Linked DNA regions of Homo sapiens. The protein of the gene in region 2 purifies or fractionates together with the protein of the main gene of each other region. This does not show direct contact. Each region holds a gene or a part of one and is shown on either strand. Other genes may lie near its edges.

What was found.
Region 1: the proteins of LLPH (region 2) and ZC3HAV1 purify together in Homo sapiens (affinity purification with mass spectrometry; 2 studies listed by BioGRID and IntAct, with this or other methods). This does not show direct contact.

Annotation. Positions count from the first base shown.
Region 1 is NC_000007.14:139,095,640-139,112,207, forward strand, and holds the start of ZC3HAV1 (zinc finger CCCH-type antiviral protein 1), read right to left. Parts: upstream 14,082-16,568; 5' UTR 13,693-14,081; coding exon 13,385-13,692; intron 1-13,384.
Region 2 is NC_000012.12:66,124,258-66,140,993, forward strand, and holds the start of LLPH (protein LLP homolog), read right to left. Parts: upstream 6,494-16,736; 5' UTR 6,448-6,493; intron 4,857-6,447; 5' UTR 4,850-4,856; coding exon 4,639-4,849; intron 1-4,638. Other genes in the region: TMBIM4 (protein lifeguard 4), read right to left, coding at 13,703-13,909, 14,467-14,512. UniProt on the Homo sapiens protein: In hippocampal neurons, regulates dendritic and spine growth and synaptic transmission.

The DNA.
Region 1 (16,568 bases), on a different chromosome or scaffold from region 2:
GCCAAGAATCCGCACATACCCTACAGTTGTACCAAGAGTGGGACAAACAGCACCGGTGCCACCAAAATATCATCTTTCTGTTATTATGGACAGTCTCTCCAGTCTTGACTTCTCTAGTCCCCTAAGTTCATGGTTCACAAGCTTGTTGCCCATTAAAAACCATCTAGGGACTTAAAAAAACAAAATCCCAAAGTCCAATTCAAACCCTAATTAAATCAGAAGGTAGGAGACGGGCATCAGTATTTTTTAAAGATTTCCTAAGTGATCCCAACATGCAGCAAAGTTTGAGAAACATTGCCCTAGGTCCACATCAGGACTGAGAAAAAGGAGAGTAGATGGCCGCAGGTGGTGGCGTTACTGCTACAATGTTTTTTTTTGTTTGTTTGTTTTTTGAGACGGAGTTCCAGTCTTGTTGCTCAGGCTGGAGTGCAATGGCGCAATCTCAGCTCACCGCAACCTCCGCCTCCCGGGTTCAAGTGATTCTCCTGCCTCAGCCTCCCGAGTAGCTGGAATTATAGGCATGCACCACCACTCCCGGCTAATTTTGTATTTTTAGTAGAGACGGGGTTTCTCCATGTTGATCAGGCTGGTCTTGAACTCCTGACCTCAGGTGATCCACCCGTCTCAGCCTCCCAAAGTGCTGGGATTACAGGCGTGAGCCACCGTACCCGACCACCAAAATCTTGATGATCAGAGAAAGTAGTTCACACAAGCCCCCTCTCCTCTCACAGGCTGGCTTCTCCCCACCACCCGCCACAATACTTCCCAGCATAAGTCCCTCTGAAAGTTAACAAATATTAACCAGAGAGAGATTAATTAACTGGTTGACAGTATTTCAGGATCCTGTGAGTGACAAAGGAAGGGGTAGAAGCCTCTAGAATTGTCTATCATTTGTGACACAAAGTTTGTGCTCAATAAATATTTATTGACTTGGTACCTAGGATGCCAAAAGTTTCCTATGTCTTTTGGTCTGTCACATAAAAGTCATAGAACCCCTAATCTCTGAGAAAGATCACTTAAAGAAAAATCTTTCATTTATTCAGAACTAAAAAATTCATTTCTTTTACTCACTCCCTCAAACTCGAAAGCCACATAAAACTCTGCATTTGCAGTCTTCCAGGAAGTGTACCCCCAAGGAATTATATGTTTCTGAAAGTGTGGTTTGACCCCTGCAAATGGATTCTTTAGGGTGGTATTTAAAAATGCAGATCCTGGGGGCGCAGTGGCTTACATCTGTAATCCCAGCAGCTTGGGAGGCTGAGGAGGGTGGATAGCTTGAGCTTAGGAATTCAAGACCAGCCGGGGCAACATGTCTCTATTGAAAATACAAGAAGTTAGCCGGGCATGGTGGCAGAGGCCTGTAATCCCAGCTACTTCAGAGCTGAGGTGGGAGGATTGCTTGGTGGGAGGATTGCTTGAACCCAGGAGGCAGAGGTTGCAGTGAGCAGAGATCGTGCCACTGCACTCCGGCCTGGGTGAGAGAGGGAGGCTCTGTCTAAAAAAATAATAATAATAAAAATAAAAAATAAAAAAAAGAAAATTTTAAAAATAAATGAATAAAAATGCAGATTCTCAGGCCCCAACCCTCCTCTTCGGAACAGAATTTCCAATAGGTGACTTGGGAACCTGCATTTTAGTAGACTCTCCCATGTGATGAAAATGCATGTCAAAGTTTGAGAAGCACTGCTCCAAAGCTAGGTAACTGCATCCCAGAAGCTACTCAAAACAATCCATCATGGATGGAAACAAATATTGGAACTCCATATATATATATATATATATATATATATTTTTTTTTTTTTTTTTTTTCTTTGAGATGGAGTCTCGCTCTGTCGCCCAGGCTGGAGTGCAGTGGCGCGATCTCGGCTTATTGCAAGCTCCACCTCCTGGGTTCACGCCATTCTCCTGCCTCAGCCTCCCGAGTAGCTGGGATTACAGGTGCCCGCCACCACGCTCGGCTAATTTTTTGTATTTTTAGTAGAGACGGGGTTTCACCGTGTTAGCCAGGATGGTCTGGATCTCCTGACCTCGTGATCCGCTCGCCTCGGCCTCCTAAAGTGCTGGGATTACAGGCATAAGCCACCAAGCCCGGCCGGAACTCCTTATATTTCTTAATGTAAAAAAATCTTTTCAGCCCAGAAAAGTATTGCCTGGGCTGAAAGGGCTGGAGGAGTGGGGGGACTCCCTGGTTAACTGAGAAGGGGCACAAGAGAACCTTTAGGGCTGATGAAAATGTTCTGTATCTAGAGTGTTGTGATGGTTACACAGGGGCATCCATTTATCAAAACTCTTTAAACCATACACATTATTTACCTTTTTTTTTAAGATGGAGTCTCACGCTGTCGCCCAGGTTGGAGGGCAATGGTGCAATCTCGACTTACTGCAACCTCCACATCCTGGGTTCAAGAGATTCTCCTGCCTCAGCCTCCTGAGTAGCTGGGATTACAAGTGCACGCCACCATGCCCAGCTAAATTTTTTTTTGTTTTTTTAGTAGAGATGGGGTTCCACCATCTCTGGTGAAATTCCTGACCTCAAGTGAGCCGCCTGCCTTGGCCTCCCAAAGTGCTAGGATTACAGCATGAGCCATGGCGCCCGGCCTCCATACACTTTAAATGGGTACATTTTATTGTATGTAAATCATACCTCAATAAAATTGATTTTAAAAAGTTTTAAAAAGTAGAACAGTAAATAGTATACAAATTAAGAATTTTCCATCATAGAATGTTTAAATAAATGTACACACATTAGGAGTACATGCTCAAAACATTCTCTGCTGATAGGCATGCGGGATCAAAATGTTAGGAAACGATTTCCCTTAGATGACCTCTTTTAGCTTCATTTTCTAAATTGGTCTAAAACATATTAAAATATCTTCCCAGTGCCAGGAGTGGTGGTACACATCTGTAATCCCACCTATTCAGGAGGCTGGGGCAGGAGGGTGGCTTGAGCTCGGGAGTTTTAGATCAGCCTAAGCAAAATATTGAGACCCCCGTCTCTATTTTAATAAATAAATAAGTAAATACAAAATAATACATAAAAAATAATAAAATACTATCTCTTCCCTGTATGGGAAATAGAGAAAAGATCATGAAATAAGTCTCCCCTCTCTCCTCCCAACCTGAGACCAGCTCCCCTGCTGCAATTTGGTTGAAGTGATTTCTCACTGGGCCTGAAATCCTAGGTGCTCCTGAAACCTTTTACCCCTTTTTCACCTCTATGTTACTATGGCTTCTTCTGTTCCAAAGTAGCCGCAGGAAAAGCTCGCAGATACCTGGTTTGGAAGTAAATACAGGCAGAAGCAGTAAGCAAATTAGAACCATTTAATGGATGGAAAAATATATCTACTTATTTTAAATGTGTAATTTTGCCATCTCTGCATTATGTAAAAAGTAGAAAATATTGTGTTATCACATGCTTCATTTGTCACTATTTAAGATTTTATCATGGTTCACAATATTACAATGTCATAATGTTTGTTAGCTTAATTTCTAAAGAAAATTGCAGACACCGAGAGTCAAATTTGATCAAATTAAAAATTTGAGATGTAGTGTTTGTGAAAAGAGAACAAAAATTCCCAAATGATTCTTACAGGGTGCACCCTTTTGTGTCACGATGTTGCAGAAAACAGCATGTCTCTAAGGCCACCAGTCTGACAATAACATGACTCCATGGACAGTGCAGAATTAGTTACAGAAGGAACTTCAGGAAGATTTCTCCTAGATGAATACGCCCACACAAACAACACAGAACATGCAAGAGTAAAATGCAAATCATTTTTCCTTAGTGAAAGAAGCAGACACAAAAGGCCACATATTATTAGATCCCATTTACAGGAAATGTCCAGAATTGGAAAACAAACAAAAAGTAGGTTAGAGATCGCCAGGGGCTGAGGAAAGGGGAGAATGAGGACTGGTTCCTGATGGTTGTGGGGTTTCTCTTTGGGGTGATGAAAATGTTCTGGAATTCCAATAGTGGTAACAGTTGCACAACATCATGAATATACTTATTGCCACTGAACTGTACACTTTAAAATAGTTTTACTTCGGGAGGCCCAGGAGGGCAGATCACCTGAGGTCAGGAGTTCAAGAGCAGCCTGGCCAATGTGGCAAAACCCTGTCTCTACTAAAAATACAAAAATTAGCCAGGCATGGTGGCGCGTGCCTGTAATCCCAGCTACTTGGGAGGCTGAGGCAAGAGAATCGCTTGAACCCAGGAGGCGGAGGTTGCAGTGAGCTGAGATCACACCACTGCACTCTAGCCTGGGTGACAGAACAAAAAATAAATAAATAAATAAATAAATAAACCTCAAAAAAGTAAATAAATAAAATAAATAGTTTTAGCCATTTTTAAAATGGTAAAAAACAAACAAAAAATAAATACTTTATCTCAAAAAATAAATAAAAATAGTTTTAGCCATTTTTAAAATGGTAAAAAACAAACAAACAAAAACTGTTACAAACAAAAATAGAGTGCTATGATGACCAAAAAAGTAAAATGCGAATAAGAAGCAACTACTAAGATGCCAAGTAAGACAAACTTAAAAAAATGAGTAATAAGACTTAAAAGGGCTAGAGATCCAGAATATATAAAGAATTAAAACCACAATGAGGGCTGGGCGCGGTGGCTCACGCCTGTAATCCCAGCACTTTGGGAGGCCAAGGTGGGCAGATCACGAGGTCAGGAGATCGAGACCACCCTAGCGAACATGGTGAAACCCTGTCTCTACCCAAAATACAAAAAAAAAAAATTAGCCAGGGGTGGTGGCATGCACCTCTAGTCCCAGCTACTCAGGAGGCTGAGGCAGAATGGCGTGAACCCAGGAGGCGGAGACTGCACTGAACCGAGATTGCACCACTGCACTCCAGCCTGGGCGACAGACCGAGGCTCTGTCTCAAAAAAAAACAAAAACAAAAACAAAAACAAACAAAAAAAACCACAGTGATACAATTTCACATTCCTTGTATTGGCACAAATTTTTAAAAGCTGACGATACCACTTGGCCACTATGTGAGGCAAGGGAAGGCTCTTATTCTTCTGGTGGGAGTATAACTTGGCAAACACACTTCGGAAAACAATTTGGCATTATCACATAAAACTTTAAGAATCAAAATTCCACTCTCCCTCTCTTTCCACGGTCTCCCTCTCCCTCTCTTTCCACGGTCTCCCTCTCCCTCTCTTTCCACGGTCTCCCTCTCCCTCTCTTTCCACGGTCTCCCTCTCCCTCTCTTTCCACCGTCTCCCTCTGATGCGGAGCCGAGGCTGGACTGTACTGCTGCCATCTCGGCTCACTGCAACCTCCCTGCCTGATTCTCCTGCCTCAGCCTGCCGAGTGCCTGCGATTGCAGGCGCGTGCCGCCACGCCTGACTGGTTTTCGTATTTTTTTGGTGGAGACGGGGTTTCGCTGTGTTGGCCGGGCTGGTCTCCAGCTCCTAACCGCGAGTGATCCGCCAGCCTCGGCCTCCCGAGGTGCCGGGATGGCAGACGGGGTCTTGCTCACTCAGTGCTCAATCTTGCCCAGGCTGGAGTGCAGTGGTGTGATCTCGGCTAGCTACAACCTCCACCTCCCAGCCGCCTGCCTTGGCCTCCCAAAGTGCCGAGATCGCAGCCTCTGCCCTGCCGCCACCCCGTCTGGGAAGTGAGGAGCGTCTCTGCCTGGCCGCCCATCGTCTGGGATGTGAGCAGCCCCTCTGCTCGGCTGCCCAGTCTGGGAAGTGAGGAGCGCCTCTTCCCGGCCGCCATCCCGTCTAGGAAGTGAGGAGCGTCTCTGCCAGGCCGCCCATCGTCTGAGATGCGGGGAGCGCCTCTGCCCTGCCGCCCCGTCTGGGATGTGAGGAGCGCCTCAGCCCGGCCACCACCCCGTCTGGGAGGTGTACCCAACAGCTCATTGAGAACGGGCCATGATGACGATGGCGGTTTTGTGGAATAGAAAAGGGGGAAAGGTGGGGAAATGATAGAGAAATCGGATTGTTACTGTGTCTGTGTAGAAAGTAGACATGGGAGACTTCATTTTGTTCTGTACTAAGAAAAATTCTTCTGCCTTGGGATGCTGTTGATCTATGACCTTACCCCCAACCCTGTGCTCTCTGAAACATGTGCTGTGTCCACTCAGGGTTAAATGGATTAAGGGCGGTGCAAGATGTGCTTTGTTAAACAGATGCTTGAAGGCAGCAGACTCGTTAAGAGTCATCACCACTCCCTAATCTCAAGTACCCAGGGACACAAACACTGCGGAAGGCCGCAGGGTCCTCTGCCTAGGAAAACCAGAGACATTTGTTCACTTGTTTATCTGCTGACCTTCCCTCCACTATTGTCCTATGACCCTGCTAAATCCCCCTCTGTGAGAAACACCCAAGAATGATCAATAAAAAAAAAAAAAAATCAAAATTCCACTACTAGATCTCTAGGGAAACTCATGTACATGTACACAAAGAAGCATATACCAAAATGTTCAAAGCATAATGGTTTAATAGCAAATACTTAAAACAATATCAATTTTACTTTGTTTTTTCAGAGGCAGGGTCTCATTCTATTGCCCAGGCTGGAGGGCAGTGGCGCAACTGCACCTGACCGCAGCCTTGTCCTCCCAGGCTCAAGTGATCCTCCCGCCTCAGCCTCCTGAGTAACTGGGACCACAGGTGTGTGCCACTGTGTCCAACTAATTTTATTTTTTAATGTTTTTGTAGGAGCTATGTTGCCCGGGCTGGTCTCGAACCCCTGACTTCAAGAGATTCTCCCACCTCGGCCTCTTGAAGTACTGGGATTACAGATATTAGCTACTGAGGCCAGTCTCAATTTTAATAATAAGAAGATCAATATATAAATTGTGTACATTCATGCAAAAGAAAACAATGAAGACATTTCAGGGAATCAGAGTAGACCTTCTCTAAAATTGGTGGGGCCCAGAGCAAGGTTATAAATGGAGGCTTGGATACAAATGTCTAAATATTTAACAGTAATAAATCATGCTGAGCTGGGCTTAGTGGCTCATGCCTGTAATCCCAGCAGTTTGGGAGGCTGAGGCAAGAGGAATGCTTGAGCCCAGGCACTCGAGACCAGCCTGGGCAAAATAGTGAGACACTGTCTCTATACACACACACACACACACACACACACACACACACACACACACAAATTAGCCAGGTATGGTGGCACTAGCCTGGTCCCAGCTACTGGGAGGCTGACATGGGAGGATCGTTTGAATCCAGGAGGTGGAGGCTGCAGTGAGCCATATTTGCACCACCACACTCCAGAGTGGTGACAGAACAAGATCCTGTCTCAAAAAAAAAAAAAGTATATATATATGTATATGTATATGTATATGTATATGTATATGTGTGTGTGTGTTTATATATGATATATATAAAATAAAAACTTTAATACAAAAACTTTAAAATTTGTTGTAAAAAAATTTTTTTGGAGACAGAGCCACACTCTGTTGCCCAGGCTGGTGTGCACTGGCATGAACATAGCTCACTGTAACCTCAAAATTCCTGGGATCAAACAATCCTTCTGCCTCAGCCTCCAGCACTGCTAGGACTATGGGCATGCACCACCACGCCCAGCTAATATTTTTTATATAATTATTTTTATTTTTTATTTATTTTACTTGTTTTTTATTTTTTTATTTTTTTATTTTTTTTTTATTTTTTGATGGGGTCTCACTATGTTGTCCAGGCTAGTCTTGAACTCCTGTCCTCAATCCTCTCATCTTGGCCTCCCAAAGCACTGGGAGTACACCCATGAGCCACTGCACCCAGCCCAGGAAAAAAATTTTTTTTGAATTCAAATAATGACTATTTCAAAGCCTTCCGACTGGCATAAGCCAAAAAAGTCTGATAACACCAAGCATTAATTGGCCAGAAAATGAGGAAACTGGGACACTCAGACATATAAGTATAAATTGGCACAGCCACCTTTATACTAATTCGTCAGAATCTGGAAAAGTTGAAGCTATGTAACAATTCAAACCAACAATTCCACTTCCTAATGATCTACCCTGGAAAAGCTCTAACCATGAGCACCAGGAAACACTTGCACGTAAATTCTTGGCAGCACGATTTGGTATAACAAAAACCTGGAAATATACTATATATCCATTACTGGGGGGAATAGGTAACTGAACTGTGGTATAAATCCTATGATGAAATACTTTTCAACTGTTAAAATGAATAAACTAGGTCCTTGTGTAGCAATATGAATAGATCTCCAAAACACAGCATTGAATAAAAATTCTAAAACACATAAAATACTACATTTTGTATATGGATGCAAACATATACAAGAGGAAATTATAAAATCATGGAAGGACAAGATACACACCAAAATCATGATTGAAGCTGCTTCTTAGGAAAGGGAAATGAGACTGGGGATGAGAAAAAAATAACCTTAGGTCTGTTATGATTGTTTAGTATATTTTAAAAGAGGAGCAAAACTGAAAAATGTGAACACTTATTTATCCCAGGAGGTGAGTTATAACTTTTATGGGTTCAGAATAAATATTCTCTGATGCTTGCGTTTTTCAGTATTCTATTCAACTTGCGAAACAGTCAACTAGTCCTCTTCCCATCTACCCACCCCCACCCAAAATGTGAATTAACCGAAAAGGAAAGACATACAAACAGGAAAGAACCCAGAGGAAACACCCACATCGGCAAAAACCGCAAAGCAAGGTAAAGACCCTTAGGCAGCCTGCTTGAAACAGTTAACAGAAATCATGCAGGCAAAATAAATTTTTGAATTAATAACTTCATATAGTTACTGGACAATGTAAGTAGCTAGTTAAGAAGTCAAGGCCGGGCGCGGTGGCTCACGCCTGTAATCCCAGCACTTTGGGAGGCTGAGGTGGGCGGATTGCCTGAGCTCAGGAGTTGGAGACCAGACTGGGCAACATAGTGAAATCCCGTCTCTACTAAAATACAAAAATGAAAAAAAATTAGCCAGGCGTGGTGGCAGGCGCCTGTAGTCCCAGCTACGCGGGAGGCTGAGGCAGGAGAATCGCTTGAACCGGGGAGGCGGAGGTTGCAGCGAGCTGAGATCACGCCACTGCACTCCAGCCTGGCAACAGAGCGAGACTCTGTCACAAAAAAAAAAAAAAAAAAAAAAAAAGTCAAACAAGGCCGGGAGCGGTGGCTCATGCCTGTAATCCTGCACTTTGGGAGGCTGGGAAGATTGCTTAAGCCTAGGAGTTTGAGAGCAGCCCAGGCAAAATGGCAAAATCCCATCTCTACTAAAAAATACAAAAATTAGCTGGGTGTGGTGGCACATGCTTGTAATCCCAGCTACTCGGGAGGCTGAGGCAGGACAATCGCTTGAACCGGGGAGGCGGAGGTTGCAGCGAGCTGAGATCACGCCACTGCACTCCAGCCTGGGTGACAGAGTGAGACTCTGTCTCAAAAAAAAAAAAAAAAAAAAAGAAAAGAAAAGTTAGCCGGACATGGTGGCGCCCACCTGTAGTCCCAGCTACTCAGGAGGCTGAGGGAGGAGGATCATCTGAGCCTAGGAATTCGAAGTGGCAGTGAGCTATGACCGTGCCACTGCACTTCAGTCTGGGTGACAAAGCAAGATCTCATTTCTAAAGAAAAAAAAAAGGAAGTCATGCAGATCTAGGTTCAAATACCAATCCTGCCAGCTTCTAGTTATGTTACTTTCAGTAGATTTCTGAAAGGCTCCATGCCCGAGTTTCCTACAATAAGGATGGGACTTAAAATACTACCTTAGGAGCTATCCTAAAGACTAACCTGGATATCATCTCCAAAGTGCTTATCATAGTGGTTGGCACATAGTTATTTGTTCGATAAATAGTGATTATTTTTGCATCAGAAGTGGGATTAGAACTCCATGTGTGGGCATATATTTCAGCAAAGCAAATAGAAATATCCAAACCGATTCACCAAAACAATTATCCAACATTGAAGCAAGCCCTGTTGTCAACTAAAATGTATCACTAAAAACATTGCAAAAGAAAAGACAGGAACTACAGAATAGACAGGATAAATCCTATCTATAAATAATAGTACCACAGACAAAATTTTATACACCCAGCACAATGCAAATCGTCCCCCTGTAAACAGAGACCAGTTTAGTGAACTGAATAGTAATGTCAAGATGGGTATCAATTAGTTAACAGACCCCATTAACTGGTAATCTACAAAGAAAGTTCTTAAACTCACAAGTGGCAAGTTTTGGAAGACAAGGTTTTATTACTCGCTAAGAGGAGAATATTTTTAAAACATAAGTAGGGAGGAAAAAAACATGTTTTCTAGGACCCGAGGACAAAAAAAAAATTCTCCCAGAGGTCCTTATTACAACACTTTATACATTAATAGATTAAAAGTTTGTAATTCCCAAATTCAAAAGTGATATAAAATGAAATTAAAAATATGGCTCTGCCAATAAATGTTAGGAAATAAGATTTTATCACTCTACTAAAAAAAATAAACTTTATTGACTTCTCTGGAGGGTCCATCCAAATTTAGATAGACCAAATAATCCCTATATTATATATATTCTTATAAAAGTGGAGGTTAACAACCCAATTAACGAGTTTAAAACAGTTTTGCTGTTTCAAACCAGGGAAAAATATACCATAATAAACTTCATAAAACTAAAATTTCTAAGCATATTGCCTACAACAAATTGAAACAAAGTATTTAAATGTTAGATATGTAACATATGAAAACAATTATAGGCCAGGTGAGGCAGTGGCTCAGGCCTGTAATCCCAGCACTTTGGGAGGCCTAGGCCGGCAGATCGCTTGAGCTCAGGAGTTCGAGACCGGCCTGGCCAACATCGCGAAACCCCATCTCTACTAAAAATACAAAAAATTAGCCAAGCATGGTGGCACACACCTATAATCCCAGCTACTTGGGAGTCTGAGGCAGTAGAATTGCTTGAACCTGGGAGGCAGAGTTTGCAGTGAGCTGAGATCGGGTCACTGCACTCCAGCCTTGGGTGACCCTATCTCAAAAAATTTTAAAAAAATCTTTTTTTAAAAGGATTATGTCTATGTATCCTTTTCCCTGAAAATAAAAGTTGGATTTATAAGACAATCAGGGAAATTTGAATACCAACTGGACAATAGATGATATTAAAATTGTAATTTTTTTTACAAAAATGTGATCATTGTACTGTATTATGTTAATAAAACATAGTTCTTATGTTTTAGAGATACTAAAGTACTTAGTAATCAAATGGTTGCTGAGATTTGCTTTAAAATAACACATTGGAGTTGGGGACACATGGGGAATAGGGAGAATAAATGAAACAAAACTGGCCATATTTTCAAAACTGTTGAAATGATGGGTACAAGGGGCTTCATCATTTTTTTCTCTCTACTTTTGAGTATGTTGAAAATATCCATAGTAAGAAATAAAAAAATAAAAAGCATATGTATTTCATACTAAAAATCAACACTAGTTGGTGAAGAATTTGTCATAATAGAAAAGATAAGAACAGAAAAAACATAACAAAGCCTTCCAACCATGTTATTTGGTGTAGTGCTAGAACATGCTAGAATGTTCCTTCCTTTTCTATCCTCCACCCTCTGCTCTCTTCTCCTTCTCAGAGATTTCTTCAGTGACCAGCAATGACTTAGATGATTTCCTCGATACCCATAACTCCCAGCAACTCAGAAACAACCTTCAAATTGTTGCCCCACAACATATTAAAGAAAATTTTAAATAAAGGAACACATTCAAGCACTTTTTAAAAACGTTAGAGTGAGCTGAAAGGGTTTTTGCTCTAAAGAAATTTTTAAAAAAATACATTGCGTCCTCTACCTCATCCATCTAAAACACTTACCTTTGTGTGTTTTATTACACGTATATTGGGGGTGAGTGACTGGAGTTTTTGTTAGGTGCGTGATCAAAAGTTTGCCGACTGGTCGGACTTGGTGGCTTATGCCTGTAATCCCAGCACTTTGGGAGGCTGAGACAAGTGGATCACCTGAGGTCAGGAGTTCGAGACCAGCCTGGCCAACATGGTGAAACCCTGTCTCTACTAAAAATACAAAAATTGGCCGGGTGCGATGGTGCATGCCTGTAATCCCAGCTACTCGGGAGGCTGAGGCAGGAGAATCGCTTGAACCTGGGAGGTGGAGGTTGCAGTGAACCGAGGTGGAGCCACTGCACTCCAGCCTAAAAAGTTTGCTGACAACCATTTTAAACCCTGGGACACAAGTCAAAGTGTTTAAGAATGGGCCAAGTGTAAAAAGTACTGTATCGAGAAAAGTAATTGAGCAGAGCACATAGTGACAGAAAGGGTGGGAGGAAAGACTGGCCATTCATTAATTCAACAAGGCGTTCATTCAGTTCATTCAGAAATTAGATGGGAAGGCAGAATCCGCCAAGAAGGGAAAGAGACTTCACAAAAAGGACTTGGTGATGACAGATTGTGAGGAGGATTAAAACCCTGCCTGGGGGAAAAGATGAGTTTGACTCCATGGACAGGACACACGCGGGAGAGGAAGGGCTTGGGATCAAGGGAAAGGCCTGGGCAGCGAATGTGGACCTGGAAGCCATCTTTTTAGATGTGCAGCTGTCCTCGAGGGAGCAAGCTCTCTTAGGGAGAAACTGGGAAGAAAATCACTCAAGAGTCTTAACCCAAACCTTGCAGCGCATCTGCATTTAGACGAAAAAAAAAAAAGGCAAACGGAAACAACAGAAGCAGTGGCCCGAGACGTGAGCCACACTGCTTCAAAGGGATTTAAGAGAGTTGTCCCAAGGCAGGCGGTCAACTGCGCGCGCCACCGTAGAGAGACCACCCGGAGGGAAGGCCCGCGGCTGCTACAACTTCAGGAACCTGGAAAAGGGCCACCCCTGCTACGCGCCAGGCATCAGAAAAGCGGTGATGAGGGGCATGGGGGTGACCGGGAAGGGAGGGACAAGCAGAGAGACCTGCGGCTCGCTCCGGCGGAGACGGACCGGGGGCCCAGGGCGGCTGGGTTACTGGCTCCGCCACGTCTAGGGAAGGAGGTAGTAGGGAGGGAAAGACTCAAGATACCAAAGACGGGAGGCTCTTTCCTTCCTTCCCAAACCTGCCTACCGCTTCTCTAGGCCCTGGCTGGCTCCAGAGCACTTTATTCTTCTGATTCGTGCGGGCGGGCGGGGAAAGGGGTGGAGGTTGAGCCTGGTCTCCTCCAGGCACTAGCATTTTAGCCATTCTCGAGAAAATGTCTGGAGGTGCCGGAAGGAAGGGAACTGCAAAGGTAGAAGCGCGGGCCCTGCAGAGGCTCCCAGAGGGGAGCAGAGAAGGGAGTGGCTGGAGGCGGAGGCTGTCAGGTGCGGGGTCCCGGCGAAGCCGTGCCCCTCCCAGAACATTGCCCGCCTGGACAGTCCACCCCGACCACGGCTGCGGACAGCGCCCCTCCCTCCGGGTGCACTCACCGCTCGGACTGCGAATAGTTGCACCGGCCCAGCAAGTTGAGTTTGCAGAGATGCAGGTTATCGCAGGGTCTCTGGCAGTACTTGCGACGGCAGACCCGGGCTCGAGTGGTGGCCACCACCGATCGGGTGATCCCGGCCTCGCCGCCGGTCTCCAACACCACAAAGCGGTCGGGCCCGGCCACCTGCAGCACCTCACAGAGCTGCGGCTCAGACAGCGCGATCTCCTGGAGCAGCGCGTCCAGGGCCATGCGGCCCCCGTGGGCGCACAGGATTTTGGTGATGAAGCAGCACACCTCCGGGTCCGCCATGGCGCGCTGGCTGTGCTGGCTCTGCCGCGGCGCGGGACTCGGTTCCGCGGAAATCGGAAATCGAAACTTACAAGTGTCCAGGGGCGGGCGCGGGCGGTGCTACTGCTGGGCGCGCCCGGAGTCAGCGAGGGCGCGCTCTCCGTCGCCGTTAGCCCAGCCCAGCGATCCACTCTCGGCTCTCAGGTCAAGAGGCTAGATCTCACCGACCGGGTCCTAGTGGCAGGTTTACAGCCGGCCGCAAGGGCAACTGGGTGGAAAGAAAGAGAACGCGCGGGCAAATCTGCTGGTGACCGCCTGGGGTGGCCCCCTCTCGGTTCTAGGCTCGGCGAGGGTGAGGTTCTCCAGCCGGGCTCCGCGAGCCTTCTTTAGAAAGAAGAGAAACTAAAAGCGATCTTGGGGCTCTGGCCGGTGTTTTATAAGCCAGCCGACTGAGGCGTGTGACGCAAGTCCTGAGAGCCCTGTTGAGGAGTGCGCACCCCACCCATTCCCGGAAAGAGCAGACCCTAGCGAGCGCTTCCTGCGAGCCGTGCGCTCTGCCTCTGTTGGTAGTGAATCTTCCCAGCAACTCCACATGGTAGATATTATTATCCTCACCCTGAACTTGAGGAAGTAACTTGCACGAACACGCACTGGCATCAAGCGGAGCCCAGATGCCACCGAGTTTCCCCAAATCGCGTCCCCAGGCCCCAGATCGTGGTACCCCAGGCCCCGATGTGCAAGTTTCTCCTCCACCACCGTGCCCTCTTAAAGAACAACGATTGCCACTCTCCCTCGTTTCTGCCTTCTCACGAACTTTTGGACAAACCACTTCTTGACATGGTCTTGCTTACCTAGAATCGCTAACTCGGTGCCCTGAACCACTGCTTGTACCTCAATCACGGTGGACATGCTAAGACATATCCCAAGATTTCAGATCGGTTCCTCCCCGTAGAGATTGGGACAAGAACTTTTCCACCGTGGGGACGTACTTTGACCCCCAGAGTTGACATAAAGATTGTTTTTAAGTGAAAACATTGAGCTACAGAAGATGTAGAAAGAAATCTTAATGAAACTTCCCTTATCTGACTAAAGCAAAACCTCCCGAAAACATGGTGCCATTAAAAGCCTCTCGGAGTATTCAGCTGCCAGGAAGACAGACTGTCCCATTACCATTAGCACCAAAAAACCCAATGGGCTGGGTGCTGTGGCTCAGCCCGTAATCCCAGCGCTTTAGGAAGCCGAGGCAGTGGGAGGATTGCTTGAACCCAGGAGTTCAAGACTAGCCTGGGCAACATAGTGAGCTCTCTTCAATAATAATAATAATAATAATAATAATAATAATAATAATAATAATAAAAACAACCCGGGCATGGTGGTGTGCAGCCGCAGTCCCAGCTACTCGGGAGCCTGAGGTGGGAGGATTGCTTGAGCACGGGAGGAGGCTGCAACGAGCCGGGATTGTGCCACTGCACTCCAGCCTGGGGGATAGCGCTGAGACTTTGTCTCAAAAACACAAAACAACCCAATCAAAACTTCCAAACTCTCCTACTGAAGCCCTAAAACTTTCCTTTTTGTTAAGTTGAGGTATATAAACCTTTACTTTTGAGTTTTCTGTTACTGGAAGCTCCTGCATGCATGTGTAAATAAACTTTGTCTTTTCTCCTATTTATCTGTCTAGTGCCAGTTAATTTTTAGGCCCCCAAAGACAGGACACAAGTTGAAGAGAAAAAAGGTTTTTTTTTCCAACATCTTCAAATAAAATAGATGGGTCATTTGATCAGATAAGAAATACATCTTTTTAAAAAATAATAGATTCTGGTTGCTAACTTAGAAATTCTTCAAAATGATTAATGAGAATTCTCCTCAGTTTTGTCATTCATGGTATATAAACCCTCTTTCAGGAATAGAGTACTTTGTTATGAAAACCAGCCAAACATGGGGGCCACATAGGATCATCTTAGGATGTCTAAGAGGGACATCTTGTTCCCTCTAGTTGCTGCTTCTATAGTTGTCTTTTAATCCACTTGGCCTTATTTGTGGTCTGACAGGTTCCCAGGGACCTTTTATTATCAAATCAACTAAGTTCTAGATGTTTATTGACTATCTTCTATGTGGTATTTACATTAGTTAGTAATGTAAGGACATGCAGAAGTTTAAAAAACAGTCCCTGCACTCAAGGAGCATGTATGCGAAGACATGAAAAAATGCATGGAAATATAAGCAAATTCATGGGTAAATGCCACAATGGGAATATAGAAGATGAGAGACTGAAGAGTCTAGTTTGGCTACAGTGGTTGGGAGTACAGACATAGAATCTCCTCCAATTTGAAGCCATGAAAAATGATTTAAGGGCCAGGTGCAGTGGCTTGTGCCTGTAATCCCAACACTTTGGGAGGCCAAGGCGGGAGGATCATGACCATCCTGGGCAACATACTGTGAGATCCACCTGGGCAACATAGCGAGACCTCATCTCCACTAAAAATAAAAATTAGCCAGACATAGTGGTATGTGCCTGTAGTCCCAACTACTTGGGAGGCTGCGGCGGGAGGATTTCTTGAGCCCGGGAGTTCAAGGTTGCAGTGAGCTACAATTGTGCCACTGCACTCCAGCAAAGGCAACAGAGGAAGATCCTTTTGGAAAGGGAAGAGAGGGAAAGGGAAAGGGAAACGGAAATGGAAAGTGACAGAGAAAGGGAAAGGGAAAGTGAAAATGAAAGAGAAAGGGAAATGGAAAGGGAAAGGGAGGGAAAGGAAAGAAAGGAAGGGAAAGGAAAGGAAGAGAAAGGAAAGGAAGGAAGGGAAAGGAAAGAAGGGAAAGGAAAGGGGAAAAGGAAGGAAAAGGAAAAAAAGGAAGGAAAAGGAAAAGGGGAAAAAAGAAGGGAAAGTGAAAGGAAAAAA
Region 2 (16,736 bases):
GCACATGTGAGTTACAACAACATTTCTCATATTAAGTGATTCCTTGAGTTCAGTAAGCATACCTACACTTCTAAGGGATACACCTTAGATGTAATGAACTGATTAGGAATGACTGGCCATTTCTTAAGAACTTGAACTAAATTATAATGAACTGAGAACGAACTTCTAATGAACTCGATGGAGTAGTCAGCAGCAGGGTTGTAATGGCAGAGACAGGCACTCAACAGAGAAGACCTGGACACATCCTGGGGCTGGCATACTTTTCCTAGCTAGGTAACACCCAGAGATCCAGCTCTACTGATAGGAGACTTGGCAGGAAGCTCAGTGCAAACATGCTGTGGTACACCTATCACCTTCTCCACTGTGAAGGACATGCTCAGAGTCCCTCACTGGGACCTCCTTATCAGGATACACAAAGTCTTCTATTATCTCGACTACCTGGCATTATATTAGATATTTGCCATTGTTTCCACAGTATCTAGAATAGTGTCTGGTATATAACAGCCACTCAATAACTAGGTGTTGAATGATTATTTTAGGTGCTGTTCTAGTTTATGGGGATATAGTGGTCCATATGAACTCCTAGCCCTCACGGAGTTTACAGTGTTCTGTTGACGGGAGAATAACACAGCAAACAGAAAGAAAACCTCAGCCAGGTATAGTATCTATAGGCATTTGTAGTCTCAGCTATTCGGGAGACTGGGGTGGGAGGATCATTTGAGGCCAGGAGTTCAAGGATGTTGTGGGCTTGGTCACGCCTGTGAACAGCCACTATACTCCAGCCTGGGCAACAAAGTGAGATCCTGTCTCCCCGCAAAAAAAAGAACTGGTAGGCGCTGGTAAGAACATGTTAAGATAATGAGGTTTTTAAGCATGGCAGTGATATAAACTGATTTACCTTCTGAAAAGATCACACTGGTGGATATGTAGAAGATAAATGAGAAGGGAACAAGAGCGGAAGAGAGAAGTAAAAAGGCTCCTATAATAGTACAGGCAAGAGATGACGGCCTTCTGAATCAAGGTGAAAGCAGGAAAAAAATGGATACAGATTTCTAATGTATTTTTGGGACAATCAGTAAGACTTGCTAATGGTTTAGATGTGGGGAATAAAGGAAAGAGGAATCAAGGATGACTACTAGGTTTATGGCTTAAGAAATCAGGCAGGCAGTTGAAAGAGTAGAAATAAGGAAAAACATGAACTTGAGGGTAGAGATGAGAGCCAAATTGATAACAAATAGATTACTAAATGGGGAGACTCCCTCAGTCTCAGTCTCACCACCCTTTAGCTCCTAAAATATCTAAGAATAAGGGCATCCAGAATTCCCCAGGCAGGACATAAGATAATTTCTCTCTGGGGATGATGAGGAAAAAAAAAGACTTAACAGATTCTGATACAGGAGATCTCCGAATAAAACCTCCTGGAGCCATTCCAAATCTTCTATACATCTAGCAGTTGACAGACCCTCTCCCACACCTTGTCTCCCTCCAGCTTCCAATCATCATTGTAGTGCCACACTTTTAAATACAAACAATGACCACTGATCACCAGACATTTGAGAAAAGCTTCTAATATGAAAGAAAGAGACAAAAGTAAAGGAATGGAAGGGCTTGGGAGGGAATTCCAAGAGGAAAGACAGATAATACATACCATAAATAAAAATTTCAAAAGCAAATTGTAATTAATACCCTTAGGAGAAGATATATGCCCATTAAGAACACAGAGTTGATGACTCAAGGGGCATTTACAAAACACAAAGAACACAAAGCTATGAAAAAGGAACAGTAGGCCAGGCGCAGTGGCTCACGCCTGTAATCCCAGCACTTTGGGAGGCCGAGGCGGGTGGATCACGAGGTCAGGAGATCGAGACCATCCTGGCTAACATGGTGAAACCCCGTCTCCACTAAAAATACAAAAAATTAGCCGGGTGTGATCGCAGGCGCCTGTAGTCCCAGCTACTAGGGAGGCTGAGGCAGGAGAATGGCGCGAACCCGGGAGATGGAGCTTGCAGTGAGCCGAGATCATGCCACTGCACTCCAGCCTGGGCGACAGAGTGAGAGTTCATCTCAAAAAAAAAAAGTAAAAAAAAAAAGAAAAACTTTTAGAAATTAAAAATATAAGAGAAAACCAAGTAATAAGAACCAGAATTCAAGGTCAAGGAAATTAGAGGGTATAACAAAATAAATAGAAAACAGGAGAGAAAAGAAAACAGGATCAATCCAAAAGAATCAAGAGTGGATGTGGGCATCTGGTATCTAGAACATATAAAGAACTCTTAACAACCCGATAATAAAAAGACAAACAACGTAATTGAAAAACGAGGCAAAAGACTTGAGTAGACCTTTCTCCAAAAAGATAATACAAATGGTCAATCAGCATATGAAAAAATGTTCAGCCGGGTGTGGTGGCTCACACCTGTAATCCCAGCACTTTGGGAGGCTGAGGCAGGTGGATCACTTGAGGTCAGGAGTTCAAGACCAGCCTGGCCAACATGGTGAAACCCCAACCCTACTAAAAATGCAAAATTCAGCTGGGCATGGTGGCACACGCCTGTATTCCCAGCTACTTGGGAGTCTGAGGCAGGAGAATTGCTTGAACCTGGGAGGCAGAGGTTGTGGTGAGCCGAGATCATGCCACTGCACTCCAGCCTGGGCAACAGTAAGACTCCATCTCAAAAAAAAAAAACAAAAAACAAACAAACAAAAACCAAAAAACACTTCATTCAATGTCATTAGTCATTAGGAAACTTCAAATCAAAATTACAATGAGAATCTATTTCATACCCTCGAAGATGGCTATAATCCGAAAATGGAAAACAAGTATTAGTGAGGATGTGAAGAAACTCAAATACTCAAACACTGCAGGTGGGAATGTAAAATAGTGTGGCTGATGTGGAGAACATTAAAAAGAATTACCATATGACCCAGCAATTCCACTTATCAAACAAAACCTTGTGCACCTGAATGTTCACAGCAGCACTATTCACAACACCCATAAGGGGAAAGAAATCCAAATGCCCAGCAACCGTTGAATGGATATGAAACGTGGTACATGCAATGGACTATTATTTAGCCTTAAAAAGAAAGGAAGTACTGATATATGCTACAATGTGCGTGACCTTCAAAAGCACCATGCTAAGGGAAATAAGCCAGGCACAAAGGTCTCATTATATATGATTCCATTTATAAGAAATATTCAAAACAGGTAAATTCACACATGAAAAGAGCATATTAGTGGTTGCCAGAGGCTGGGGGTAGGAGGAGGAGAGACAGACTTCTTAATGGGTATTAAGTTTCCTTTTAGGGTGAGGAAAGTGTTTTGGAACTAGAGGTGATGGTTGCACAACATGAATGTACTAAATACCACTGAACTGTACACTTTAAAATGGTTAATTTTATGTTATGTGGATTTTGCCTTAACAACAACAAAAAAGAACCAATAGGGAGGGGTGATGTGTGTGTGAGGAAATGAAAACAGCAAGTGAAGGCAAGTGTTTCAAAAAGTTTCAAGGACAGCTGAAATAAAGCAGCAGATTGAGAGAACTTGAGATCAAGGGAGAAATTTTTCTTTCTTTCTTTTGACATTGAACATCCCAGAACACATCTATGCTGTTGGCAATGACCCAGTGGAGGAGACTGATAAGGCAGATGCATGAGTACAACCCCTGAGAATGTTAACGGTGGAGAGGATTCAGAACACAAGTGGAGAAACTGGCCTTGGAGAGAACATTAATAAAAAAGGGAAAACAGACTATACAACATTTGAATTCTTATAGACTTGGGTAGTGGAAAGATGAGGATATTTCTTGGTTGGCCCCTTTTTCTCACAGAAGTTGAAGTAAAATGCTTTTTGTAATTTTTATTCATACAGAGTGGGAGAAGGATGAAATGGGAAGAAGAAAAAGTTAAAAACAGCCATTTTTAAAGGGAAAAAACCCCCTAAGGTTGGGAGATTGAGAAATACTGCTCTTTTCCTTGGGCATAAGACATCAAATACATGTATTTCTATTTTAAAGTCTGGGTATTGCAAATACTTAATTTAGTTTGCTGCCAAATTGGTGCATTAAATGTGCAAAAAGCAGCATTATATATATATCCTCCAACTTCATGATTAAGACACAAAGGTTCCTAGAATCTGTCAAAATGAAATAGTGAAACCCTGTGATTTTCAGGATAATAGTATAAGGGCATAGGACTCATAGAATGGGAATTAGATCTTACAAAGAGTAAAATGAAGACCTATGCTGCCTAGGCCCTGAGTGAACTGTGTACCCTTCCAACCAGAGTATGCCTAGATTTGTCTACTCCTGTAGAACTGTTTATTCCTGAGACATGGAGGCTATTGTATAAGCACCAAAGACCCACTCTAAATAATCCAAAACATATGTATATACATGAACAGGCTTGACAGAATTTTTTTTGTTTTTAAATGAAGCGCAGAGGGGCTGGGCACTGTGGTTCATGCCTGTAACCCAGTGCTTTGGAAGGCTGAGGTGGGAAGAATCCGCTTCAGCTCAGGAATTCAAGGCTGCAGGAAGCTATAATCACACCACTGCACTCTAGCCTAGGTGACAGAGGAAGGAGACCCTGCCTCAAAAAAAAAAAAAAAAAAAGAGAAAGAAAAAGGAGAAGCACACTCACCTTTTTCATCTTTTACCTCACATTGCATTTTCTCTTGGCAATGTTTGGGTTTGGGTACCACCACAGTTGCTATCTCTTGAACATCTTTCATTAAAACATCACCGTCTAGTTTGAGAATACTTTTAAGCCTGCTGGCCTCCTTTGGGGCATTCTTTTTTCTCTTTTCAGCACGCATCTTTCTTTTCCACTTACTCCGTAAGCTTTTAGCCATGTTTTACCTGAAGTTAACAAAAACACACATTCAAAAGCAAATCTTTAATATAAAAAAGAAAACAGGCAAATCCTTAGAAAACCAGGCCAACAGGTATCTCTACAAAACAAGTGAAAAGTAAAACTCTTCAATCTGTTCACTTTTTAGGACTTAACATGCAACTTATATGAAGATCAACATGGTACATACACAGTCACTAAATAACAAGATATCAAATCAAACTTGTGGTCATAAGCAAACTACAAATCAAACCAATTCTGAAAGCACCTTGCATGTCTTTTTTCTTTTTTTTTTTTTGAGACAGAGTCTTGTTCTGTGTCCCAGGCTGGAGTGCAGTGGCGCGATCTCAGCTCACTGCAACCTCCACCTCTCAGGTTCACGCCATTCTCCTGCCTCAGCCTCCCGAGCAGCTGGGACTACAGGCGCCCGCCACCACGCCTGGCTAATTTTTTGTATTTTTAGTAGAGACGGGTTTTCACCGTGTTAGCCAGGATAGTCTCGATCTCCTGACATTGTGATCCGCCCGCCTCGGCCTCCCAAAGTGCTGGGATTACAGGCTTGAGCCACCGCGCCCGGCTGAATTTCTTTACAAAATACAGAAATTTAATTTCCCCAGAATGCAACAGCGTCATCACCTTACATTTATGCAACAGCTTACAAATTACAAATGATTTTTATAAACACTTCACCTCATCTTCATTATCCATCCTCTCAAGCCAACTTAACGACTGTAAACTTATCTATTCCTACTCTTGTTTTCTTTCCACTCAGTTCCGCCCTAAATCCTCCACAAGGTGCTCAGTGTGATCTTTTAAAAAAGCATTCACTGCCTTTCTTCGAGTTCTTTAAAGACCTCCTCCCTCATATATATTCAAGATCTACAAGGTCATTTGTGATCTGTCCCCTGCCTCCTTCAACTCTATTTCATTTCATTCTCCATCCCCATCCCCGCAGGCACCAACTACGTCTGTAAAGAGTCCAAACTATCTCTACGTCAGTGCCTTCATATTTGCTGTCCCTATGCCTGGCAACTGCTCTTCTCAAGGCTTGCTCCTTCATTCGCTACCTCAGAAAGGACTCCTCTGACCTCCGTAAGCTCCCTTCCCTGCTTATTAAGTGTTACAACCTGAAACCATTGTTTTCTGTCACGCCCCCCGACCCTCTCCCCAGACTGTAGACTCCACGAAGGTAGAGGGAAAGGTCTTGTTCACTGCTGAATCGCACACTTTTTGCATACTTGTTGAACGAACCACTAACATTTTTTGAACGCCGGCAATCACAGTCATTCCGCTCCCTTGTCTACATAACTCAACCCTTGCGAGGGGCTAGGAAAGCGGGCGGCAAACAACCTTGAGGGCCGAAGTTAACTTCAGCGGGAGTGAACGACAGGGGTGGGCTCCACTTTATCCAGTGCACTCGGAAGCCGGAGGGCCCCCACCAAAAAGAGCAAGGGGAACCCTCGCCCTCAACAAGGCCTGCATCTCCGGACTGGAGCTCAAGTATAGCCCAGCGAGTGTCAAGAAACGAAATTCTCCAAGGGTGGCGGAATCAAGCCCCAAGTCCCATGTGTCACTGGACCGGTGAGGAACCGAACTCACCTGAGAAACGAACACCCACACCTCACGCTCACGCCGACCGGAAGTCTTTGCACTTCCGTCTTCCGGGCGGAGGCCACCCGGGGCGGACGCATTGCACGCCGGGAGACAAAATGTCTCAAGAAGCCTTGAGAGGCGGGATTTTGGAACCCGGGCGCTGACGAGCTTCCGCCATTGGTGTGATCGCGGACCTAGAAACTTGGTCCGTCCCATACAGGTGTAGAAGTCGGATTTGGAGAATGCTGACGGGTGTCCGGTCAAGGTTAGGCCCCAGGTAGGTCCGCTTTCCGGACGTGGGCAGGGTAGCCCCGAGACTAACCTATGGAGTGAACCTGGCCAGGGGACCCTACTTGTCAGATAGGGAGCTCCGAGCCGACCTTTAGATCTGACCTCAGCGTTTACATGATACTCATGTATTTCCTTAGATCAAGTCAGCCTAGATCAGGTGTTCTTCCAGAGGCCGTATTGAGATCATTTTTATTTGCAGCCTGTGCATTTTCTCATCTCGGGTGATGGCCTCACAGATGTACACATATGTAAAACCGTATCAAACTGCACACTTTAAATATGTGCAACTTATTGCATGTCAGTTATACTCAAAGCGGTTACCAAAAACAGAAAACAAGCTTTTCCTACCCCAGAGAAGAATTTAAAGGGTAAAATGATCAAAGGATTTCAGTTCTATCAATGTTTACCTGTCTGATCACTTACGTATCAGACACAATGCTAAGCCTAGGACGATTGTCTTAGCTCACGAATAACACTTACTGTACAACTATTTCTACTGGCATAGGCTTTGGAACCATATAGGTCTGTGTTGTACTCTTGCTTCCAACACTTGTGAACGATATGGGTGAGTAATTAATGTCATAAGGGCCTGAATTTCCTTGTCCCTAAAGTGAACATAATACAACCTAATTGATGCTGTAAGAGTTCAACAAATGGTACCCTTTTTACATTATAGTTTCAAAAGTATAGCTACACAGTACTATTTGTAAGCAATGTTTCTAGAGATTTACGACATATACCCAAAAAACATGTCTTTAATGATGGCCTGGTAAACTCCTGCTGGTTGCCAGAAAAAGGGGTTCTGAGGCAATCTATGGGTACCTTTTTTCTTTAAATTTGTGTCCTTTATGAAACCATGCATAGTATGGAAATTACTGAATTCAGAATATAGCAAGGTTAAAGAGGCTGAAAAAAACCTAGAACATTTGATATAAAAAAAGGAAGCATGCCTAAGAAACCTGGTTTATTTAAATGAGATTTCGTTCTTATAAAGCAAGTGAATTTCTGTTTTACAAGTTAACCATATACTGTACCTCATCTTTCAAATGAGAAGTTAGCTACCTCACCCAAAAATATAAGTGCACATTGCATTTTAGAGAAAACTTATATTCTGATAGTCCATATTTACTGTATCTTGTTTAACATACCAGGACAAGACTTTTGAATAGGCACTTGGCACCAGAAAAAATAATTTACCTATTATGAAAATGTCATGTTGTTAAAATACCATGCCATGATTTAGCATTACAAGTGCTTTAAACAGCTGAGTAAAACACCCTTTTACTCCTTTTTACTTATGTCCCCTCACCAGTTATATAAAAGCAGTTCTAGAAAAGTGGCCTTAGTATATTTAAAAGTCTAATTCATTCCTTCATTCATGCCTTTGAATATGCACTCTATTATAGGCACTATGCTGAATTTGCAAAGATGAAGGAAACTAAACTACTGTTTTTGGGAAACTTTATCTCCTAATGGACAAACAAGGCTTAAGGGTCCAACTAAACATTGCAGTGGCTCATCACAGAGCTGGAAGGAGCCTATATATAGAACTAGAGGCACAGTGGGTGGCCCTGAATACCTTACAGGAAGCAGACTGATTTTCTCATCCAAAAGGCATGCTACATGATGCAGAACAGTCAGTGGGGCCCCTGCAGTCAGGCCTCTCCCATGGAATCCCTGATCTGCACAATCAGTAAGGAACAGGAAGACTTCTGGGATTCAGATAGTGACCCCATGTTGCCCATTCCCTAGATAATGGGGACTTCAAGACAAAGCTCTAGAAAAATGAAAGGAAAAAGCAAAAAGTATCTAAGTCCTTAGCTGCTCCAAAAAAAAGGCCTGCAGCTGCAGGCTGTTGACCACTAATCCCTGGAAATGCATCAAGTAGACTGAAGCTAGGTCTGAGAAGAAATCAAGGCAGGTGTATACGGCCTACTGCATCTCTTTTCCCAAATTACGTTCAAGAAATACAGAAGTTCTCAGATATTGCTCTTTCCTCATTTTCCTCCTACCTCTTAGCTGTTCTTCCTATGGCCCTTGCACACTGAGTTGCCTGTTGCTCTGTCCAAGTCCTGCTAATTCCATGTTCTTTTTTTTTTTGAGACGGAGTCTCACTTCGTCACCAGGCTGGAGTGCAGTGGCACGATCCTGGCTCACTGCAACCTCTGCCTCCTGGATTCAAGTGATTCTTCTGGCTCAGCCTCCTGAGTAGCTGGGATTACAGGCGTGCGCCAACACGCCCAGCTAATTTTGTATATTTAGTAGAGACGGGGTTTCACCGTGTTAGCCAGGCTGATCTCGAACTCCCAACCTCAGGTGATCTGCCCGCCTCGGTCTCCCAAAGTGCTGGGATTACAGGTATGAGCCACCATGCCCAGCCCTAATTCCACTTTCTATTAATATTTCTGAAGTCTGTGTATTTTCACCTTTACTTAATGCAATGCTTTAAAATGGTCGAGGTATATTCCCTACCTAGAAGAACTCATACTTATACACAGTGGGACACATACACGGACTTACATACCACATAAAATTCATTGACAGAACACAGGAATAAACCAATGGTTGATTTATAAAATGTAATATTTTGTACCAAAGGTTTTCAAACTTCTTGGTCTTGGGATTCCTTTACACGCTTATTATATTGATCTTATCAGAAATTAAAACAATTTTTTTTGGAAAATTTAAGTCATTTAGAAAGGATAAACTTACTACATGTTAACATTTTTATGGAAAATAACTATATTTTCTAAATAAAAAATAATTTAGTGAAAAGAATGGCATTGTTTTACATTTTAAAAATGTCAGATCTACTTTTGCTTATACAGAATCTTTAGTCACAATCAGTCCATTCCACCTTTGAACTGAAAATGGTATTAATAGCGTGCAAAAATGTAAGGGGGCCTCTCCCTCTCCCTCTCCCTCTCCGTCTCCCTCTCCCTCTCCCTCTCCCTCTCCCTCTCACTCTCCCCACGGTCTCCCTCTCATGCGGAGCCGAAGCTGGACTGTACTGCTGCCATCTCGGCTCACTGCAACCTCCCTGCCTGATTCTCCTGCCTCAGCCTGCCGAGTGCCTGCGATTGCAGGCACGCGCCGCCACACCTGACTGGTCTTGGTGGAGACGGGGTTTCGCTGTGTTGGCCGGGCCGGTCTCCAGCCCCTGACCGCGAGTGATCCGCCAGCCTTGGCCTCCCGAGGTGCCAGGATTGCAGACGGAGTCTCGTTCACTCAGTGCTCAATGGTGCCCAGACTGGAGTGCAGTGGCGTGATCTCGGCTCGCTACGGCCTACACCTCCCAGCCGCCTGCCTTGGCCTCCCACGGTGCCGAGATTGCAGCCTCTGCCCGGCCGCCACCCCGTCTGGGAAGTGAGGAGCGTCTCTGCCTGGCTGCCCATCGTCTGGGATGTGAGGAGCCTCTCTGCCTGGCTGCCCAGTCTGGAAAGTGAGGAGCGTCTGCGCCCGGCCGCCATCCCATCTAGGAAGTGAGGAGCGCCTCTTCCCAGCCGCCATCACATCTAGGAAGTGAGGAGCGTCTCTGCCCGGCCGCCCATCGTCTGAGATGTGGGGAGCGCCTCTGCCCCGCCGCCCCATCTGGGATGTGAGGAGTGCCTCTGCCCGGCCGAGACCCCGTCTGGGAGGTGAGGAGCGTCTCTGCCCGGCCGCCCCGTGTGAGAAGTGAGGAGACCCTCTGCCTGGCAACCACCCCGTCTGAGAAGTGAGGAGCCCCTCCGCCCGGCAGCTGCCCCGTCTGAGAAGTGAGGAGCCTCTCCGCCCGGCAGCCACCCCATCTGGGAAGTGAGGAGCGTCTCTGCCCGGCAGCCACCCCGTCCGGGAGGGAGGTGGGGGGGTCAGCCCCTGCCCGGCCAGCCGCCCCATCCGGGAGGGAGGTCGGGGGTCAGCCCCCCGCCCGGCCAGCCGCCCCGTCCGGGAGGTGAGGGGCGCCTCTGCCCGGCCACCCCTACTGGGAAGTGAGGAGCCCCTCAGCCTGGCCAGCTGCCCTGTCCGGGAGGGAGGTGGGGGGGTCAGCCCTCCGCCCGGCCAGCCGCCCCGTCTGGGAGGTGAGGGGCGCCTCTGCCCGGCCGCCCCTACTGGGAAGTGAGGAGCCCCTCTGCCCGGCCAGCCGCCCCGTCCGGGAGGGAGGTGGGGGGGTCAGCCCCCTGCCCAGCCAGCCGCCCTGTCCAGGAGGGAGGTGGGGGGGTCAGCCCTCCGCCCGGCCAGCTGCCCCGTCTGGGAGGTGAGGGGCGCCTCTGCCCGGCCGCCCCTACTGGGAAGTGAGGAGCCCCTTTGCCCGGCCAGCCGCCCAGTCTGGGAGGGAGGTGGGGGGGTCAGCCCCCTGCCCGGCCAGCTGCCCCGTCCGGGAGGTGAGGGGCACCTCTGCCCGGCCGCCCCTACTGGGAAGTGAGGAGCCCCTCTGCCCGGCCAGCTGCCCCGTCTGGGAGGGAGGTGGGGGGGGGTCAGCCCCCCCGCCCGGCCAGCTGCCCCGTCCGGGAGGTGAGGGGCGCCTCTGCCCGGCCGCCCCTACTGGGAAGTGAGGAGCCCCTCTGCCCAGCCACCACCCCGTCTGGGAGGTGTGCCCAACAGCTCATTGAGAACGGGCCATGATGACAATGGCGGTTTTGTGGAATAGAAAAGGGGGAAAGGTGGGGAAAAGATTGAGAAATCGGATGGTTGCTGTGTCTGTGTAGAAAGAAGTAGACATGGGAGACTTTTCATTTTGTTCTGCACTAAGAAAAATTCTTCTGCCTTGGGATCCTGTTGATCTGTGACCTTACCCCCAACCCTGTGCTCTCTGAAACATGTGCTGTGTCCACTCAGGGTTAAATGGATTAAGGGCGGTGCAAGATGTGCTTTGTTAAACAGATGCTTGAAGGCAGCATGCTCGTTAAGAGTCATCACCAATCCCTAATCTCAAGTAATCAGGGACACAAACACTGCGGAAGGCTGCAGGGTCCTCTGCCTAGGAAAACCAGAGACCTTTGTTCACTTGTTTATCTGCTGACCTTCCCTCCACTATTGTCCCATGACCCTGCCAAATCCCCCTCTGTGAGAAACAACCAAGAATTATCAATAAAAAAATAAATTAAAAAAAAAAAAAAAAAAAAAAAAAGAAAATGGTATTAATACCATCAGCTGACATTAATTAAGCACTTAGTTTAGTTTATTTATCTATCTCATTTAATCCTTATAACAGCCCAATAAGCTAGACATCATTATTCCCATTATGAAGATGAGGCAGAAGACCTAAGGAAGGATAAATAATTCGCCAAATGTCACTTAAGCACCTGGTTGGACTGCAATGATTCTAATCTAGATGCTCTTACCCACCATGCTGTTAAACTTGATTGCACTGCATCATACACTTGATAATTCAACAGTTAATGATAATAAAGTCAAATTTACATCTACAAATCATGCAAGCTTAAATTGATACTACAAGTTTATTTCAACTTAATAGCTGGGAAATACTTAGGGGGTGTTATGGGCTGAGTTGTAGTCCCCCCAAAATTCACATGAAGAAATCCTAATCCCAGCACTTCAGAATGTGACTGTATTTGGAGATAGGTTTTGAAAGAGATAATTAAGGAAAAATGAGGTCCTCAGTGTGGGCCCTAATCCAGTATGACTGGTGTCCTCATAAGAAGAAGAAATTTGGGCACAGACAAGTACAGAGGGAAGGCCATTTAAAGACACAGGGAGAAGATGGCCATCTACAAATCAAAGAGAAAGGCCTCAAAGGAAACCAACCCTGCTAACACCTTGATCTTGGACTTTTAGCCTCCAGAACTGTGGGAAAACAAATTTCTTGTTGAAGCCACCCAAGCTGTAGAACTTTGTTATGGCAGCCTAACAAACTAGTACAGTGAGGGAATTTGACAAAATTTCATTGGTTACTGGTACACTGACCTAACATGCTGTGTGGACCAACACAAATGAAACCATAAGACAATACTTCCCAAATATTTTAATTTTGAAATAGATATACTTAATGGCTGATGACCCAGTATCTTTGGTGTCCTCTAACCACATTACCATTCTATAATTTCAAATGAAATCTATACTTTAAAAACAATTAATGTCAAATTTTGTCATAATATCTGACTTTCAGGCCAACTTTTAATGTTAGTACAATTTAAAATAAAAAGTCATTAACATTTTAATGTAATACTGAATAATTCTCTGTGGAATTTATCTTTTACATTTTTTTCCTTTTAAGCAAAAAGAGATTTACAGTTTATAATGGTAAAGACTCTACTACTTCAGAATCAAAGCCAAATCAATATTACTTAATAATTCAGGGAAAATTTAGATAAAATCACTAGACAACGGTAAACTGATATTCTTATCTACTCATAAAATTATTTTTGAATTGCAAACGAACTGCTATGCGTGGCTAATTTAGGAAGAAAAATTTTTTTTTTTTTTTTGAGACTGAGTCTCGCTCTGTCACCAGGCTGGAATGCAGTGGCGTGATCTTGGCTCAATGCAACCTCCACCTCCCAGGTTCAAGCGATTCTCTGGCCTCAGCCTCTTGACTAGCTGGGACTACAGGTGTGTGCCACCACATCCAGCTAATTTTTGTATTTTTAGTAGAGACGGGGTTTCACCATGTTGGCCAGGATGGTCTCAACCTCTTGACCTCGTGATCCACCTGCCTCGGTCTCCCAAAGTGGTGGGATTACAGGCGTGAGCCACTGTGCCCAGCCAGAAAAGCATTTTTAATAGAATTTTGATAGCTCTTAACTGAGATCCTAAATCAAGGATTTAGAAATGAGGTATCATAAAGAATAGTAAGATTTTAAAGCTCTCAAAATTACATATGATACAAATAAAGATTGTAACAGTATTTAATCATTGTTTCAAACTTTATTACTTAATGAAACAGTTTCTATATACTGCTTCCAATTACTTTAATCCTTTTTTCTCATTAAATTTTTTTTGTTGTTCTTCAGTTGAGCTGAGATACTTTTAATTACTTTTTATTAACTGCTTCCAGAAACCGTAACAGGTGCAGGAATAGATTGATGATATCCAAGTAGAGGCTGATGGCAGCTAATACGTACTCTTCAGGTGACAGTTTATGCATCAGTGAGTGTGTGTCATAGATGATGAATCCACAGAAAAGAAGGGCTCCTGCAGCGGCTAAGACCAACTCCATTATCTCACTATAAAAAAAAAACTATAGGGAAGAGATTAAAGAAATATGTTTATATTTGAGAACAGTATTAACAGGACTTAACTTACTTCCTCTAATGATTTACTGCTACATTATACATTTGACAATGGTGTACAACTTTGAATACAAATGTTAAAAGCAGAAAAAGGCAAGGCAAGTCCAAACTTGCCTCTGTTGGATGGAAGGATGAATGAGTGGTTATATTCCATTAAACTAAATTACCCACTTTGAAAAACAGCATTCCACATATAAATTATTTAAAAATATATTTCGTTTTTCACAATTAAATGTGCCACTGGAGCTTGGCAGTTGTAAGCAAGGGCCTCTTTCTATGTAATTTAATTCATTTATTCATTCATCTTTTTTTCAGTCAATAATAAGGACCAACACAAGACCCTGATTTTCTAAAGGGATAATTCTATAATCATTCTATATACAAATGTTCTGGATAATTATAACTAAGTGTCCTATCATAAGAGTATCTCTTATAGCTTTTTGAGGTTATTTATATTGACACAGCCAGAATTATATTTCAAATTAACCATTATAACATAACTTACCTTCAAGAATCCTGACAGGCACAATATCCACAAAAGAGCAAACAGCCTATAAAAATACAATTTTAGTAATTTGCAATATTGTTCCTTACAAAAAAACTTTGTAAACCCATTCAACACTTTCTGAAAAAAACATCCATCTGGATTTTTTGCTGAAGAATAACTAAAATGTAAGAATTTGTAAACATACAATGAATATAATGCCCATCTTGGATCTTTTTTTTAAAGAAATTGAAAGAACAGCTATTTATTCAACATTTGTCTTTATGGTATACAAACCTAGTTAACAGTATAATTTGTGAAGTTTTGGAACATAAAATACAGATAAAAGCAGAAATATCATTACAAGTATTTTAATTCAGAGATCTATAAAAACTTTTAGAAAATATATAAACAAATGAACTAGGATTGCACTTTTAAACCAAGTAATAACAAGTTATTCTGTGAACATGTCTATCGAAGTTCACAATGTACTTTCCATTTTATTCTTATGTATTATGGAACTTAATTGATGGACACATCTGACACTGCTATAATTTTATGAGTTACAATTCAATTGTTATATATAGAGAGTATAAATTATATAAGAAAGGACATCTAAGAAGTCAGTCTTTTGTTATAAAATATGGGACTTATCAGCTGCTTCAGGTCACAGGGAATTACAGAGGCCACATTTATCCTCCTTCCTTAAATAAAACCAGACAAAATATATGAAACAACAGTTCTTGGACACTGGACAGCAAACAGCACAGGACAGGGATTCCTGAGATAAAGGATACAAAGAAAGTGAAGTCTATATTTGCCCCAGCTACAGAGGGTTTCCAGGCCAGCGTGTAGGGATAAGAACCCATACAGTCACTTGCGGTCTCCTTGAGTTGAGCAGACAAGAATTCAGAGGTCAGGGAAGCCAAGGTAGCTAGAATTTGCAGGGCAGAATATCAGAAAGAAGAGAACTATCCACCAAAAGTGAGCACTCTGGTGTATGCACAGGATTCCCCTAGAGTCTGTAGCTACATTCTGATTAATACATGCATGTTAAGGAGGTGACCAAGGCTGGAGAAAGAACCACAATAGAGAAGCAGGCAGAACAATCCTCAGAGTTCACACAGGACTGGGAATAGTTTGCATTCACACAAGCTGGAGTAGAAAGACCTCGTAAGACATGCACTGAGTAGTATGCTGAAGGGTACTGTCTCAGCAGTACCCTTAGGGCCAAATGAGCCCCTAAGCTAAAAGCTGTTCTGGACCTCCTAACAGAGCCTCAAAAGGTTTACTTTCCAAGGAACTTAACTGCATCCTAGGAGAACAATGCCAAATATATTTAAAGTTAATACAACAAAATTCAGCACCCAACCATGTAAAATTTATAATGACCAGCATCCAATAAAAAATTATAAAGGCATGCAAAAGAATGAAGGAAATATGACCCATAACAAGGAGAAGAAACAATCAATAGAAACAAATCCAGAAATGACACAATGATAGAATGCATAGACAATGACATTAAAAATATACTCCCTAGTTCAAGATCGAGGAAAGAATGATCATGAGGAGGAGAGAAATGGAAGATACTATTTTTTTTCAAAAGACACAAATTGAACTGAACTTTAATTGATTAAAAATACAATATATGAAACACAAATATTCTGATTGGAATTAATAGCAGATTAGACACTGAAGAAGATTACTAAATTTGAAAACAGCAATAGAAACTAACCAAAATGAATCGCAGAGAGAAAAAGACAAAGAAAAACAAACAAACAAAAAAAACAGAACAGTGAATTAGGGGACAACATCTAGAAGTCTCACACAGATGTAACTGGAGTCTCAAGCAAAGGAGAAAGAAGGGGAGACAGATAAATGTTTGAAGAAATAATGGCCAAAAATTTCCCAGATTTGAGCTGTGCACAGTGGTGTGTGCCTGTAATCCCAGCTACTCAGGAGGTGGAGGGATCACTTGAACCCAGGAGTTCGAGTCCAGCCTAGGCAACACAGCAAGACCCCATCTCTTAAACAATTTTTTTTTCCAAATTTGAGGAAAACTTTACATTGTCAGATCCAAGAAACAGAAGAAAAGTGGAGGGGGAGGGAACCACACCAAGGAATATTTTAATCAAATTACTGCAAACCAGTGATAAAGAAAAAATGGTAAAAGTAGCTCTGTATGTGTGGAGGAAACATATACAGAGGAATAAATATAAGAAAGATGGCAGACTTCTTGTCAGAAACTACATAAGTCAGAGGACAATGGAATGACATCTTTAAAATACTGA